Linked DNA regions of Homo sapiens: region 2 is linked to region 1. The links come from fine-mapping of genetic effects on gene expression. Tissue or cell type: skin. Region 1 holds a variant in brackets; the other region holds the start of a gene. All regions are shown on one strand. Distances are between the middles of the regions.

Region 1 (8,091 bases):
GAGATTGTACCATTGCACTCCAGCCTGGGCAACAAGAGTGAAACTCCATCTTAAAAAAACAACAACAACAACAAAAAAAAAACCAAAAGACCCACAGGCTGGTGGACGTAGCTCCCCTTTCAGCTCTGCGAGCCTCACATGGAAAAGCCGACTCTTTCCGACTTTGCAAAAGGCAAAGTTCCATTAACAACTACACACATTTACAAAAGTATTTCAAAGTCTCTATAAGAAGGGAAAAAAATTTCAAAATAGCAAAGTAGAAAACTTTCCAGGGCCCTTTCTTCAAGTCAGGCCATCCATCCACTCCACTCCACTGTTTCTCATGGTGACAGCAGGCAGGAGATCTCTGCACAAAACAAAAATCCCAGGTCCCCGATGTCTCTATCGCCCCCATACTGGAAGGGCCATGATCTCTGGTCCTCTTGGCTGTGGTACCTACCAGAGGCCTTATCAAAAATATGGCATCCCTTAAGCCTTAAGGCATCTTTTAGAAGTCAGGAATGCAGAAAAGGCAGCGAAGAGTGCAAACAGGAAACAGAAAGCACCCGGTCACACACAATGTCACCAGAAGGGCAGCTAGCTTCCCATTTGAATGGGTAAAAACAACAAACCTCTCTCCATCCCAGGAAAAGGAAGAACCTGCGTCAGGCACAGGGGAGAGACCCCGCCAGGGGTCCTCTGTGGGCTCCTGCCAGGTCAGCCCTCCTCCTTCCGGCTGGGCCAGGGCAGGGGCAGGCTCCCGTGGCGGGCGGGGGCGGCAGGGAAGTGTGGGCCCACCTGGCCTCGGGCGTGGGTCTGCATGTGCACGGCCAGGTGGTGGTTGCGGTTGAAGGTCCGGCCACACTGGGGGCACTGGTAGGGCCGCTCACCGGTGTGGATGCGCTGGTGCCGGAAGAGGTCCGAGGGCCGGCGGAAGGCCTTGCCGCAGTAGGGGCAGGCGGGCCAGCCCTGGCCATTGCCGGTGTGCAGGCGCTGGTGCAGCAGCAGGCTCTTGCGCTGCTGGAAGAAGCGCAGGCACTCGCTGCAGTGGTACATCTTGCTGGCTGCAGGCCGCCGCCCCACCAAGGCACGGCCCCCTGCCACGGAGCGGCGACCCTCAGGCTCCTCGGGGAGCCAGCGGATGACAGGGCCGGGTACCACCACCTCCCCCGGCTCCAGCATGGCCTGGCTGTCCCCGCAGCTGGTGGGCGAGCGGCCGGGGGCCTCCTGCCGCCCCTCCTCCACATGGGTCCGCTGATGAATCGTCAGATTGATCTTCAGGCGGAAGCTCTGCCCGCAGTCGGGGCAGGGGAATGCCCGCTGCCGCCTGCGGGAGAGGACTCGGGGCGTCTCCCCACTGGCCCCCGGTGGCCGTGGCTCCCCTGCCCGCACCCTGGGCATGCCCTGGGCCTGATGACGGCTGGGGCCCCCAGGCCTGTTCCTGGGCCCTCGGGGGATTCTACACTCGGTCTGGCCTCGGGACACCCCCAGAAAGAGCCGCTCAGGCGTCATCTCGTCTTCAGACTGTGCCTCTGTCTTGATGGCCACACCACCACCTGGCAAAGGAGTCTATGTTGGTTTCCAAGTGGACCTCACCACCCTGTCCCCCAGGTCACTCGGCCCAGTCCTGGCTTCCAGCCTCAGCCCGGGCCCTATCTCCCCACAGTGCTCACAGCACATTGCAGGGGTCCTGCTCACTGAGCCCTGCCACACAGGCACTGCCTTGCACGGTCACTCAGTCCTGATTGTTGTCATCTGCCTCATTCCTGGAGGCCAAGCTAAGGACATCAGGGGAGGGGAGATCAAACTGCAAGGCCAGGAGCCAGGGAGCCCAGAGGTCAGGGGTCAGCTGGAGTGGGACACAGAAGCAGAGACCCTGGGCACAGCAGAGAGGGTGGCAGGACCCCACCCCCAAGAGTTCTGGTGACATTAGTTACCATCTGTGAAAGACAATGAACCCCAGGGGCCCTGCATGCCCCCAGACCACCCTAAGAGGCCTCTGTGGACTAGAGGTGGTGAGTGCTGCACCCATGCTCAGCTGCTCATCCACATGACAAATCCACACAGAGCGTCCACGACCTGTCTGCCACTACACTCACTGGTGACAGAGAGGAGGCACTGGGACCTGAGATTCCTGCCTGGGTCTGTGTGAGTCTCACTCAACTCCCAGGTTGGGTGGAGGCAAGGAGCTGCTGGGACAGCAGTGACAAGGACAACCAAGGCAGTGGCAGGTGATCACAGCAATGTGCTGGAGACGTGAGACCCCAGGTCTCAGCACCCAGCTCTCAGGGGTCCCTAATGTGAGGGAGGGTCCTGGCACCCTGCCCTCTCAGGGAAGCACAGACTCTAGGCAGAGGGACACAGACTGTGGACACGGAGGGGCTGGGAGCCCAGCCACGCCAAGACCACGTGAACAGCTTTTCCATCATCATCGGACCACATGCCTGGGATCTGATGCCTGGGTTTTCATGCAGTGCCTTTCCAGCCAGGCCAGACCAGACCACGATGGGGAAAGACCAGGAAGGACCCCAGACTGATCTGGGTCCCCACAGTCCCCAGGGAGATAGAAGCTGGAGAGGGAGGGAGAGAACCCTCAGGAGGAAGCCCCTCACCAGGTCCCACCACCCAACCCCAACCCCACCCCACTCCCAAAAGGCCCCCACACTCCTGTGGGGCTCTGCTGCGGCCACAGGTGCCTCCGCCCTTCTTCCCCAGGCCCCATGCCTGGCAGGATGTCCCTGGTGGGGAAGGTTGGAGACTCCCCATCTAAAGACTCTCCTTCTGGCTTAATCAAAGATAAAATGCTGGTGCTCCGGGAGGTGAGGGGCGCCTCTGCCCGGCCACCCCTACTGGGAAGTGAGGAGCTCCTCTGCCCGGCCAGCCGCCCCGTCCGGGAGGGAGGTGGGGGGGTCAGCCCCCCGCCCGGCCAGCCGCCCTGTCCGGGAGGGAGGTGGGGGGGTCAGCCCCCCGCCCGGCCAGCCGCCCCGTCCGGGAGGTGAGGGGCGCCTCTGCCCGGCCACCCCTACTAGGAAGTGAGGAGCCCCTCTGCCCAGCCACCATCTCGTCTGGGAGGTGTACCCAACAGCTCATTGAGAACGGGCCGGGATGACAATGGCGGTTTTGTGGAATAGAAAGGGGGGAAAGGTGGGGAAAAGATTGAGAAATCGGATGGTTGCCGTGTCTGTGTAGAAAGAAGTAGACATGGGAGACTTTTCATTTTGTTCTGTACTAAGATAAATTCTTCTGCCTTGGGTTCCTGTTGATCGGTGACCTTACCCCCAACCCTGTGCTCTCTGAAACATGTGCTGTGTCCACTTCCCCACTTCCCTCCACTATTGTCCTATGACCCTGCCAAATCCCCCTCTGCGAGAAACACCCAAGAATGATCAATAAAAAAAAAAAAATTAAAAAAAAAAAAAAAAAAAAAA[C/AC]AAAGATAAAATGCTGGTGCTAGCTGGCGGCCACGTGAGAAAGACTCGGCGAGGGCCTCTCCCAACACCGGCTGCTGGACACCCGCGGCTTGCAGCGTGCACAGCCATCTCCCCAGCAGCCCTGGACGTGCGCAAGTCCCTGTCAGGGAAAGGAGGCCTAGGGCTTCTGTCCCGAGGGCTTCAGAGGTGAGACAAGAGCTACGAAGGCCATGTCCCCAACACTCCTGCAGGCCAGTGCTAATGACTTGTCCCTCAGCATCTGTCACCCTGATGAGCCTGAAAAGAACAGAGGGTTGGGAGGCTCCCGGACACCGTTCCAGGTCTGCAATGGGGCAGGAACATTGCCTTCCCACCTAAGAGGGTCCCATCTCTCCAACTCCATGAGCAGAGCCCAGACTTACACACTGGCTGGAAAGAGAAACCCAGGGAAGGGAGGATGATCCAGTGGGGAAGATACCCAGAAATCACCACAGGGAAAGCAACCAGAGACTGAAAGTCGGGCCAGCGGCAGGACCAGGTGGAGGAGCCAGCCCCGCAGAGGAACACTAGACAGAGAACAGAGCTCTGGACTGTTTGCAAGTGTTCCGCTAAATGCCCTGATATACACTTTTGTGAAAGGACAGGCAGGGACTGCCTTTAAATAAAAGCAGACAAAGAAGTCTGGAAGGATGACTAAAGCCAGAGTTCCCAGTAGGTCTTCAGAAAGAGGGCGTTTACTGAGAAACACCATGCTGGCGCCGCGCTAGGCACAGGACACACACTGCCCCGTGGATGGGACCCTCGTAAAGACCCTGGGCAGGCACAACACACCCATCTACCCCCTCCCCTCACTCCACCGGACCCATGTGCCCAGGCCCCCAACACGCAGAGGAACCCACCCCTCTATACAGACTGTTTTCTCACGCTGAAAATGCCAAAACCTACCTTCTTTTAGGCCTGTCTCAGGGGCCTCTTTCCCAGAAAGCCTGTCCGGCCCAGCCCAACCAGTCTCCCAGCCCTCTCTCCCAGCCCCATGCTTCCAGGGCTTTTCCTCAGCACCATCGCTTGGTGATCGCGTGCTGCCTCGGGACACTGTTCATCCTGCCGCCTCACTGTCCTCACTCACCTGCTTCTGGCCCGGCTGGGGCCACTCTCGCCTCTGAGTCCTGCTGCTGCTTGGGGGCCTGCCCTTCTTTCAGCTCCTCCTGGGCAGGGCTAAGTGGGCTGGTGAGGTGCTCTGGATACGGAGGGAGGCCTGGAGAATGTAAATCAGTGACATTGAGCACAACATGGAGGTCTCCTGCCCAGATGACCAGGGACCCTCTGGGGAAAGGCAGAGTCACTGCGATCCTGGGGCCTCAGCTCCAGCACAGGGCATGATAGTGAGGTGGACCCCACCAAATACCTGGCAGCTAGATTCCAGTCTAAAGCCTCATGTCCCACAGAAGGAAACTGCAGCACAGGAATTCAGCAGACAGGAAATCACGGTAATGATCGCCAGGCAGGTCATGACAGAATCTGGCATTTTAAGGCAGGAAAGAGAAACACCATGCCTGTCCCACCAGCCAGTGGGGTGGTCACCACCTCCCGCAGTCGGGCCTCCTCCTCCTCCTCCAAGCTGCTCTTATGGCATAGGGGACCCAAGGCAGGGCAGAAACACAACTGAAGATATGGCGTTAGGAGCGTCAAGGTTTTCCCCTCAGAAGTTGTCTTTCAAGATAACTCCATCCCTACGCCTACTTCTTAGAACCCGTGTCTATATACATGTTTAATCAGTGCCCGCCTCCCAGAGTGATCGTAACCAACCCAGCTGTTAGCAAGACTTTCAAATGGTAAAGCCCCGAAATGAGCACTTGTCCTCTCACACAAGAAATCAAACTCTGATTTTTTTTTTTGAATTTTTTTTTTTTTTTTTGAGGCGGAGTCTCGCTCTGTTGCCCAGGCTGGAGTGCAGTGGCGCAATCCTGGCTCACTGCAAACTCCGACTCCCAGGTTCAAGCAATTCTCTGCCTCAGCCTCCCAAGTAGTAGGGATTACAGACGCCCATTACCATGCCCGGCTAATTTTTGTATTTTTTAAGTAGAGACGGGGTTCCACCATCTTGGCCAGGCTGGTCTTGAACTCCTGACCTTGTGATCCACCCTCTTGGCCTCCCAAAGTGCTGGGATTACAGGAGTGAGCCACTGTGCCTGGCCAAAGCTCTGATTTTTTAAGCAAAAAAAGATGATAAGAAAAAAACTATGATGAGCAAAAGGCTGACAGTGAGAGTTGACAGAATGCTACCATCAGAGATGAAATCAGCAAATGGCTCACATCATTTGTCCACTTGATGCTAAGAGGAATTTGAAATTGGATGGGCATCAGATCAGAAGGGAACAGACAAGAAACCCAGAATCATGGAAAAAGTGGCTCTACCTCCAAACCTGGGTTGGAATTTACCACGCTGGATCTTCCTAAACTTAAGCATCCAGAGAACAATGCCTTGTCAGAGATAAAAGAACAACCAGACCGGGCGCGGTGGCTCACGCCTGTAATCCCAGCACTTTGGGAGGCCAAGGCAGGCGGATCACAAGGTCAGGAGATCAAGACCATCCTGGCTAACATGGTGAAACCCCGTCTCTACTAAAAATACAAAAAATTAGCTGGGCGTGGTGGCAGGCACCTGTAGTCCCAGCTACTTGGGAGGCTGAGGCAGGAGAATGGCATGAACCCGGGAGGCGGAGCTTGCAGTGAGCCGAGATCGCGCCACTGCACTCCAGCCTGGGCGACAGAGCAAGACTCCATCTCAAAAAAAAAAATAAATAAATAACCACCAAACGCCGAGTATGGTGGCACATGACTGCAGTCCCTGCTAGTTGGGAGGCTGAGGCAGGAGGATGGCTTGAGCCCAGGAGTATGAGGCTGCAGTGAGCCATGATTGTGCCAGTTGCATTCCAACCTGGGCAACGGGGCCAGACCCTGTCTCAAATAAATAAATAAATAAATAAATAAATAAATAAAAAGTAACCCAAGTGGGGTCCTGTCCACTCTACCTCAACTGAGGTTCTCTTCTAACAGAAGAGGTAAAACCAGCTAGAAGGTTATCAAAAGGTAAAATAGTGATGAAAAGTAATAATCCAATTGAGTCTGTGCCTGCTAACACTGCTACCGATTCCCCTTTACGTACGGGAGAGTTATAAACCAACGGGTTACACTGCCCCTAAAAATGTTGCTTTCATGACAAGCCTAAAGACGGTTGCTTCATCAGCAGATCCTAAAAATTTCAGTGGATCATCCTCTGAAGTTTCATCTTTGGATCCTTCCTACAACAAAGAAAAACACATCATCCATCCTACTAAACAGCCCCAAGCATCACAAGGTGGTGACTGAGCAGGATGAAGCCTCAAAAAAGAATGAGAAACAGAACAGTCTAAGTGAAAATATGAATCCTGACTGTTCGTGAGCCACTAAGAATTGAAAATAAGGCCGGGCGTAGTGGCTCATGCCTGTAATCCCAACACTTTGGGAGGCCAAGATGGGAGAACTGCTTGAGCTCAGGAGTTTGAGACCAGTATAGGCAACATGGTGAAACCCTGCCTCTACAAAAAAATACAAAAATGAGCTGGGTGTGGTGGCATACGCCTGTAGTTCCAGCTACTCAGGGGGCTGAGGTGGGAGGATCACCTGAGCCCGGGAAGTTGAGGCTGCAGTAAGCTATGATTGCACGACTCCAGTCTGAGTGACAGAGCAAGACCCTGCCAAAAAAAATTATGAATAATTTTTTAAATATTGGGAGGAAGAGCCAGATTCCACTGCAGTTGGATTTGGGGGACAGCACTGGCAAAGGGGCAGCACCCCCAGGATCAAGCAGCCTGCAAGTCAGCAGTGCTCCTAGTTGGGGCAGTCCTAGGCCTCTCCAAAAATGCCACTTCCATCAGTTCCATCAGGTGAAGACTCCACGCAGCTCCTTGGCCTCCAGTGCCCCCAGATGAATAAAGGGAAGCACAGGCCAAGAAGGCAACCTCATTGAAGATGATTTTGAAAGAACGGCAGGAGAGGGCCAGGCGCAGTGGCTCATGCCTGTAATCCCAGCACTTTGGGAGGCCCAGGCGGGCGGATCACAAGGTCAGGAAATCGAGACCATCCTGGCTAACACAGTGAAACCCCGTCTCTACTTAAAAAAAAACACAAAAAATTAGCCGGGCGTGGTCATGGGTGCCTGTAGTCCCAGCTACTCGGGAGGCTGAGGCAGGAGAATGGCGTGAACCCGGGAGGCGCAGCTTGCAGTGAGCCAAGATCGCGCCACTGCACTCCAGCCTAGGCAACAGAGCGAAACTCCGTCTAAAAAAAAAAAAAAGAAAGAAAAACCTAAAGCCTCCATCAAAAAAACCTATTAGAACTGATAAATTCAGCAAAGTCGCAGCATACGGAATCAATATACAAAATCAGTAGCCTTTTTATATGCCAACAGTGAACAATCTGAAAAAGAAATCAAGAAAATAATCCCATTTACAATAGCTATAAATAAAATAAAATACCTAGGAAAAAACTTAACAAAGGAAGTAAAAGATGTCTAGAATGAAAATTATGAAACATTAATGCAAGAAATTGAAGAGGACACCAAAAAATGGAAAGATATTCCATGTTCATAGATTGGAAGAATGAATTAGTTATAATGTCCACAGTACACAAAGCAATCTACAGACTCAATGCAATTCCTATCAAA
Region 2 (8,101 bases), 40 kb after region 1:
AAACATACATAGAAGGCCCTTTAACAAAGCCCTTTAAACACTTTAGTTCTGATCATCTCTTCCTCATATTTACATCAATGCCATCATGTATTTTAATTGTTTTTAACACAACAAGAAATTGTTACGTTTTATTAAGTCACTATTTGTTTAGATTTAACCATTTCCATGCATCATCACATCTTCTCATATTTTCAGACTTTCTATTTGGGAAAATTTTCATTTTACCTGAGGTATATCTTTTAGAATTTCCTTTTCTAAGAGTGTATTGGTAGCAAACTGTCATTTTTAATTTGTCTAAAAATGTCTTCTTTACATCTTTGTTTCTGAAACATTTTTGCTGCATATAAAACTATGGGACCACAGTTACTTTCTTTCAGCCTATTGACAATATCATTCTACTTTTGCCTAGCTTCCATGGTTGCTGTTGAGAAGCTGGCCCCCATTCATTTTGCTGTACTTCATTTCAAGGTAGTCTTTTTTTTTTTTGGTTGCTTTTAAGAATTCCCTCTGCCTTAGGCCGGGTGCGGTGGCTCATGCAGTGGTAATCCCAGCACTTTGGGAGGCCGAGGCAGGTGGATCACCTGAGGTCAGGAGTTCAGAGACCAGCCCAGCCAACACGGTGAAACCCCATCTCTACTAAAAATACAAAATTAGCCAGGCATGGTGACGCATGCCTGTAATCCCAGCTACTCCGGAGGCTGAGGCAGGAGAATCGCTTAGAACCTGGGAGGCAGAGGTTTCAGGCAGCCAAGATTGCTCCACTGCACTCCAGCCAGAGCAAGAGAGCGAGACTCTCTCAAAAAAAAAAAAAAAAAAAGAAAAGAAAAGAAAAAGAAGAAAAGAAAGAAAAGAAACGAAACTATGGCCAGGCACGGTGGCTCACGCCTGTAATCTCAGTGCCAAGGTTTAACAACTTACTTTGCAATCATCTGAAGGTCAGACCTTACTTTCAGTTCACCCTTACACAGAATGTTACCCTTTGAACTCTCTGCTTCATGGGATTGGGTTAGGGAGCTTCTTAGACTTTCCATCTTAGGCTCTGAGATGTGTGTTCCATTTTGCAGGTCCCTTGAATCATAAACACCAAAGATGAATGTTTGGCCAATGCCCTCAAAGTTGGCTTCAGAACTCTATCACTTTCGAGTTTCCTCTTTCGCTTAAGTTTTGGGGCTCCAAGTATTCTTTACTAAAATACATTTCAAATGCATTTATGTGCAGGGTTTTCCAGCATTTTCAGTTGTTTCATCAGGGCACCTACTTGAGCTTACTGTTAAATGACAGACACCTGAAATGTCTGAGAAGAGAAACAGGCTCAAGAACAATTTGAATAAGTTCTACAACGACAGATTCATGTTATTTAAGGCATAGTTTGGGATTGTGGTGGACTTTTTTTTTTTTTTTTTTTTTGAGACAGAGTCTTGCTCTGTCACCCAGGCTGGAGTGCAATAGCACGATCTCAGCTCACTGCAACCTCCACCTCCCAGGTTCAAGCGATTATTCTGCCTCAGCCTCCCGAGTAGCTGGGTCTACAGGCACCCGCCACCACGCCCGGCTAATTTTTGTATTTTTAGTAGAGACCGGGTTTCACCACATTGGCCAGACTAGTCTTGAACTCCTGACCTCGTGATCCGCCCTCCTCGGCCTCCTAAAGTGCTGGGATTACAGGCATGAGCCACTGCGCCTGGCCTGTGGTGGACCTTTAAGGCTTCTTCCTAACAAGGTCTACTGACGACATGTAGGTAATTGTGGAGTGACCTGGCAGGAAGAACTGTGGCAGAATCCTCTCGCCGGACTCTAACACTAACTAGATCTTGTGGAAAAGCCAAGTCTTTGACTGGCTCAGCCTAGCTTATAGGAGTCAGATGAGGTTAATATTGTAAACATTTGTGTCTTGTCTTCCCAATTCAACTGTTAACTTCCTTGAAAGCAAATACTGTGTTCTCTAAGTCTCCCAATCTCTCCGTTCTTAGTTCTTAACGCACTTTCTACAAGAATCAAATATAGCGCACCCTGCTCATGGTCAAATTTTCCCCACAGAATTTCCTTAGCCCTCCATTCTCACAAAGATCTAACATGATTCTCGAAGTGTTTCTAGACCAAGGAACACTTCATTAAAAGTCAATTCAATTCCAGCTGCCCCTTCCGTTGCAAACCCTCTGGTGTTGTTAAATTAACCACTACTTTGAAACAGTATGGGAACAGTATGAGAATGTCGGAGCTGGAAGGAAACTTAAAGCCTTGGAGATCATCTAGCAACTACTCCAACACTCTCGATTTACAGTTAAGAAAACGAAAGAGACCCAGAGAAGCGAACACAGTTGCCTAAAATCACCCAAATGGACAGCTGAAAGCTTCGTGACTCCACAAATAGGATTTTCCTCACACCAAACTCCGTATCTTGACATTCCCAGAATGGGGATGGTCGGTGGGCTGGGAGGGGGGTGTTGGGGGGGGGGTGAAGGAGAGAGTTTGGGCAGCTCTACAAACAAAATGCAGCAACTGCACTGTAGATAACATCCGTCCCCAAGGAGAAGCAGCCCAGGCTGACTTCAACCTGTGGCTGCAACCCCCAGACAGAAATCTGCAGCACTGGAAAAACCGACAACACATCGGACCGAAGAGGAGGTGGTCGCAGAGAGGCAAGTCCTGGGGTCTCCCGGGCAGCGGGAGAGCTCACTCGTAGCGACGGAGACCGTTTCCAATCTGGAAACACTCCAACCTGGGAACGGGCTCTTTTGGCACGAAAGAGAAAATGTGTGGGCAGGGTCACAAATCCACCAACCTAAAGCAAGCGTCAGAGAAGTTTCTGGGCAAGGGCGCACGGCGCCGAGGCTCCGACCCCGCTGCAGAAGGAAGCGGAGGGAAAAAAGGGCAGAGCACTGGGGTCGCGAAGAGGAGGGTCCGCGTTCACCCGCGCCAACGGCAGCCCCGGGAAACCAAGACCCCGGCGGCGTCCAAACCGCGAAGCCCCGCCCCCGGCAGGGGACTCCGCCATCCCCAACGCGCCCTCGAGCCAGCGCGCCGGTGCCTCTTTACCCGAGCAGGCGCCGACTCCGCCATGGCTCCAGTCGCCCCTCAACACCCAGACCCCGCCTCGGAGCCCCCGTGCTGCGTTCCTGTCCGCTCGGCGCCCCAGAGCCTGTTGGAAGCCGCCGCCGCCGCCGCCGTGTTGATGCCAGGTGCATTCTGGGAGCAGCGACCTCCCCGGCACAAGACCGGCTCCAGCCGCTCTTCCTCACTGTGCAGGCTTCCCATTGTGCCCCCGTGCGGCGGGAGGGAGAACGCTGCTTGGCACTCCCGGCCAGAGTGCGGGCACCAGGAGGGCTCAGTCACTCAAAAGTCAAGACCAGGTTCCGCGTTTCAGGCAAAGCCACGGGATCCTGCTGTCTTCCGTATGCCCAGCACTCTGCTAAATGCTTTGAGGGATTCAAAAATGTGTACAACTCAGACTTTTTGCTGAGGAAAGAACATGTAATGTTGTTGGGGAAAAGAAATATGGTTCCAAAAGGCAAGTGATTTTATTCCAAAAGTTCACCTGTTATTTGGCTTTTTAGAAACTGGGAACAGTTTCCATATCAACAGTGTGGAGCGTGGGGTCAGGCCCAGGCCAGCCCTCTGTAGCCTGTTAATTATGGTAATCATGTGCCTTGGAAAGTCCAAGACAACCCTGATTTCAAATATTTCCAGTCCTCATGCTACATGTAAGACGATGTGTCTGGAATTTTTGTTGGAAAGCACGGCCACATGACCATTTAATCGCCATGTACTTAATCCCCAATACCAGCAACACTACGGCAACCATAGCTGCCTAATTTATACCATTGTCTCTCTGGAGACAAGCAATGAACTTCCACTTCACAGGATAGGCGTGAAGTGTTTCCTCTGAGAACGAAACTTTTTTTTTTTGAGATGGAGTTTCGCTCTTGTTGCCCAGGCTGGAGTGCAATGGCGCAATCTCGGCTCACTGCAACCTCCACCTCCCGGGCTCAAGCGATTCTTCTGCCTCAGCCTCCCTAGTAGCTGGGATTACAGGCATGTGCCACCACGCCTGGCTAATTTTGTATTTTTAGTAGAGACGGGGTTTCCCCATGTTGGTCAGGCTGGTCTCAAACTCCCGACCTCAGGTGATCCGCCCACCTCAGCCTCCCAAAGCGCCGGGATTACAGGTGTGAGCCACCCCACCCGGCGGAGAACGAAACTTTTAAGATCATGACTGGCTCCTTCCTCACATGCAGGGCTCAGTTCAGATTCTACATCCTCAGAGAGATATCCCCAGTCCCCCCTTTCTACAGCCCCACACCATCCTCCATCTCAATACTCAATCTCGTTACCCTGCTGGAAATTTTTCATACCATTTATCACCATCTGAAGTAATCTCTCTTTTTCACTCATTTACATATTAATTATCTGTATCTCTTCCACTGAAATGTCTGTCTACTGTATCCTCCATTTGTTGTACACAGAAGTGTTCATATTTGTAAATGATTGAATGGTGAATCAGAGTGTAAGGATATGAAATGTCATCTCAAACAGAGGCATTATTTCCAGGGCAACTAGATCAACGGGCACGTCACTGAATCATTAATAAATCTAGAGAAAGAATGGGCCAGGCTGAAGAAACCGGTCAGTCAGGGAGATCCTGTCCAGAGGGTCTGACCTAATCTCTCAGACCAACAAACTCTTGGTGTCAGATACAGAAAAAAAAAAAAATGTGTCATGGGTGAGGTGGCTCATGCCTGTAATCCTAGCACTTTGGGAGGGCAAGGCAGGAGGATCACTGGAGTTTGAGACCAACCTGAGCAAATAGGCAGACCCTGTCTCTACAAAATTAAAATTAAAATTAAAATGAGCCAGGAGTAGTGGTGCACACCTGTAGTCTCAGCTACTCAAGAGGTTGAGGTGGAAGAATCATTTGAACCCAGTAGTTCAAGGCTGCAGTGAATCACGATCGCACCACTGCACTCCAGCGTAGGCAACAGACCAAGATCTTGTCTTTAAAAATAAAATAAAAATGTTATCCTCCACAGGCACAATATCAGGACATAGGATGCTGAGGTCATTAAACAGTTCGGTCGTAGAACTCATTCCCTCTATTCTATTTCTATACTCACAAGGCAACCTTCTGACGTTGCATGTTGCCAGGTAGCTTCTGGGAGGCAACATGCAGGTGAAGCTGATGCACATGTATACCTCAGTCTCTTGAAAATGAGCATGTTTCAGCATCCCAGACTCTGAGCCTGGAAGTCTGGAAAAAGGTTCAGATCAAATTTCCAGCCTGCAAAGGAGGCAGCACCAGGCACCAGGGTTGCAATCACGTGGGCTGGTGGAGATGGTGTGGCGCCTGCAGTCCCCCGGGCTGATGAAGACAGTGTGGCACAGTGATTTGCTAAGTGGGGCTGGGGAGTGAGACCGTCTGGGTCCCTAGCCCAGCACTGCCAGTATATTAGGTTTCTCTAGACAGACTAATAGGATATATATATAATGTTATATAAAGGGGAGTTTATTAAGTATTAACTCACATGCTCACAAGGCTCCACAATAGGCTATCTGGAAGCTGAGGAGCAAGGAGAGCCAGTCTGCGTCCCAAAACTGAAGAACCTAGAGTCTGATGTTCGTTGATGTTCGAGGGTGGGAAGGGTCCAGCATGGGAGAAAGAAGTAGGCTGGGAGGCTAGGCCAGTCTAGTCTTTTCACATTTTTCTGCCTACTTTATATTCTAGCTGTGCTGGCAGCTGATTAGATTGTGCCCACCAGATTGAGGGTGGGTCTGCCTTTCCCAGCCTACTGACTCAAATGTTAATCTCCTTTGGCAACACCCTCACAGACACACCCAGGATCAATACTTTACATCCTTCAATGCGATCAAGTTGATTCAGTATTCACCATCACAGCCACTTACTAGATGTGAAACTTGGTCAGGTCTTTAACTTCTTAGTACTTGTTTCCTCATGATTATTGGTGAATAGATAACAGTACTTAGCTCATAGAGTTGTGTGAATTAAATGAGTGAATTCAAGTCAAGTGCTTAGAACAGTACCTGGCACAGAGGAAGAGCTCAAGAAGTACTCATGATCATTATTGTTGTTTAGTCCCAGATCCTTCATTTACTAAGTGCTGTGGCTCATGCTCACTCTGCCCTAGTGTCCTTGTCTTCCACTGAGAATGTGAACACCTCATCCTAAGGTTGCTGATGGAACTAAAAGAAAGAATTTATGTAAAGTGCTTATGTAGCCAAGTGCCCGGCATACAGCAAGCACTTGATAACAGGCAATTTCTTCTCTCTGCTTTACTTTTGCAAGGTCCAAGCCTTGTATTGCAATGAGTTCAGCAGGATAAATGTGGCTTTGTTGTGTCTCTTAGAAACTACCCATTTGTTTTTTCCAACTGACATTCAAATCTTGACATATGCTGTTTTAAAAAACGTTGTTGGCCGGGTGTGGTGGCTTACGCCTGTAATCCCAGCACTTTGGGAGGCCAAGGCAGGCGGATCACAAGGTCAGGAGATCGAGACCATCCTGGCTAACATGGTGAAACCCTGTCTCCACTAAAAATACAAAAAATTAGCCAGGTGTGGTGGCGGGCGCCTGTAGTCCCAGCTACTCCAGAGGCTGAGGCAGGAGAATGGTGTGAACCTGGGAGGCAGAGCTTGCAGTGAGCGAGATTGCACCACTGCACTCCAGCCTAAGCCACAGAGCGAGACTCCATCTCAAAAAAAATTGTTGTTGTTTTTTGTTTTTTGTTTTGAGACAGAATCTCGCTCTCTTGCCGAGGCTGGAGTGCAGTGGAGAAATCTTGGCTCACTGCAACCTCCGCCTCCCAGGTCCAAGCGATTCTCCTGCCTCAGCCTCCCAAGTAGCCGGCATTACAGGTGTGTGCCACCACGCCAAGCTAACTTTTGTATTTTTAGTAGAGAGGGGGTTTCATCATGTTGGCCAGGCTGGTCTCGAACTCCTGACCTCAAGTGATCCACCCGCCTCGGCCTCCCAAAGTGCTGGGATTACAGGTATGAGCCACTGCGCCCAGTCCGTTTTAAAAAACTTTTTTTTTCCTCTTTTTTTTTGAGACAGAGTCTCTCTCTGTCACCCAGGCTGGAGTGCAGTGTCGTGATCTCCGCTCACTGCAAGCTCCACCTCCCAGGTTCACGCCATTCTCCTGCCTCAGCCTTTTGAGTAACTGGGACTACAGGCACCCGCCACCACGCCCAGCTAATTTTTTTTTTTTTTTTTTTTTTTTGTATTTTTAGTAGAGACAGGGTTTCACTGTGTTAGCCAGGATGGTCTCAATTTCCTGACTTCGTGATCCGCCCGCCTCAGCTTCCCAAAGTGCTGGGATTACAGGCATGAGCCACCACACCCGGCTTAAAAAACTTTTAAATGAAGTTCACAGTTATTCCCATTAGTAGCATTGGTATTCCAAGAATCAAGAAAATAGACATTTAGTACTTGTAGCCTGGCATCTCTACATTTGTAGAATATGAATGCAACATGCAGAGCTGAAAATGACCTTAGACATCATCTCACCCCAGACCCTCATTTTTAGTGAAAGAAAAAAGTATTCTTTGAACAAACAAATAATATACATTGTTAAAATAATGTTTTAATAATATTTATCTTGGCCAGGTGCAGTGGCTCATGCCTGTAATCCCAGCACTTTGGAAGGCTGAGGTGGGAGGATTGCTTGAAGCCAGGAGTTGGAGACCAGCCTGGGCAACATAATGGGACTCCATCTCTACAAAAAAAAAAAAAAAAATAGCTAGGCATGGTGGCACACGCCTGCAGTCCCAGCTACTCGGGAGGCTGAGGTAGGAGGATCACTTGAGCCCAGGAGGTCGAGGTTGCAGTGAGCTGTGATCACGTCACTGCATTCCAGCCTGAGTGACAGAATAAAGCCCTGTTTCACACACACAAAAATTATCTTATCCTTTAAATTTGTATCATGTGTATGATTTATAGCATACATATTAGCCTATATAAGTACATATATGTATGCCTGTTTTTTTCTCAAAAAAGTTTATAATCCATGGCTTTATTCCACTCGTTAAGACTCTTTCTGTCTCACTGCCATTACTATCTTGCAAGTCCCTAGATGGCATGAACCATTTC

What was found. PIP is the estimated chance that this variant, and not a neighbour inherited with it, causes the effect.
Region 2: ZNF212 starts here. The variant in region 1 is fine-mapped to the expression of ZNF212 in skin (TwinsUK, PIP 0.95).

What each region holds. Positions count from the first base shown.
Region 1 is chr7:149,274,949-149,283,039 of GRCh38, reverse strand. ZNF783 (zinc finger protein 783) reads right to left here. Exons shown (of 6, transcript NM_001195220.2): 5 at 4,513-4,641; 6 at 1-1,535. The coding sequence ends at 697. Among named protein-coding and RNA genes, the nearest start is that of ZNF783, 17 kb to the right of the region's middle. RefSeq lists an enhancer at 1,071-1,607. The variant C/AC (reference allele first, on the strand shown) is at 3,408.
Region 2 is chr7:149,234,738-149,242,838 of GRCh38, reverse strand. ZNF212 (zinc finger protein 212) reads right to left here and starts at 3,188. Exons shown (of 5, transcript NM_012256.4): 1 at 3,037-3,188. The coding sequence starts at 3,060. RefSeq lists an enhancer at 3,127-3,421.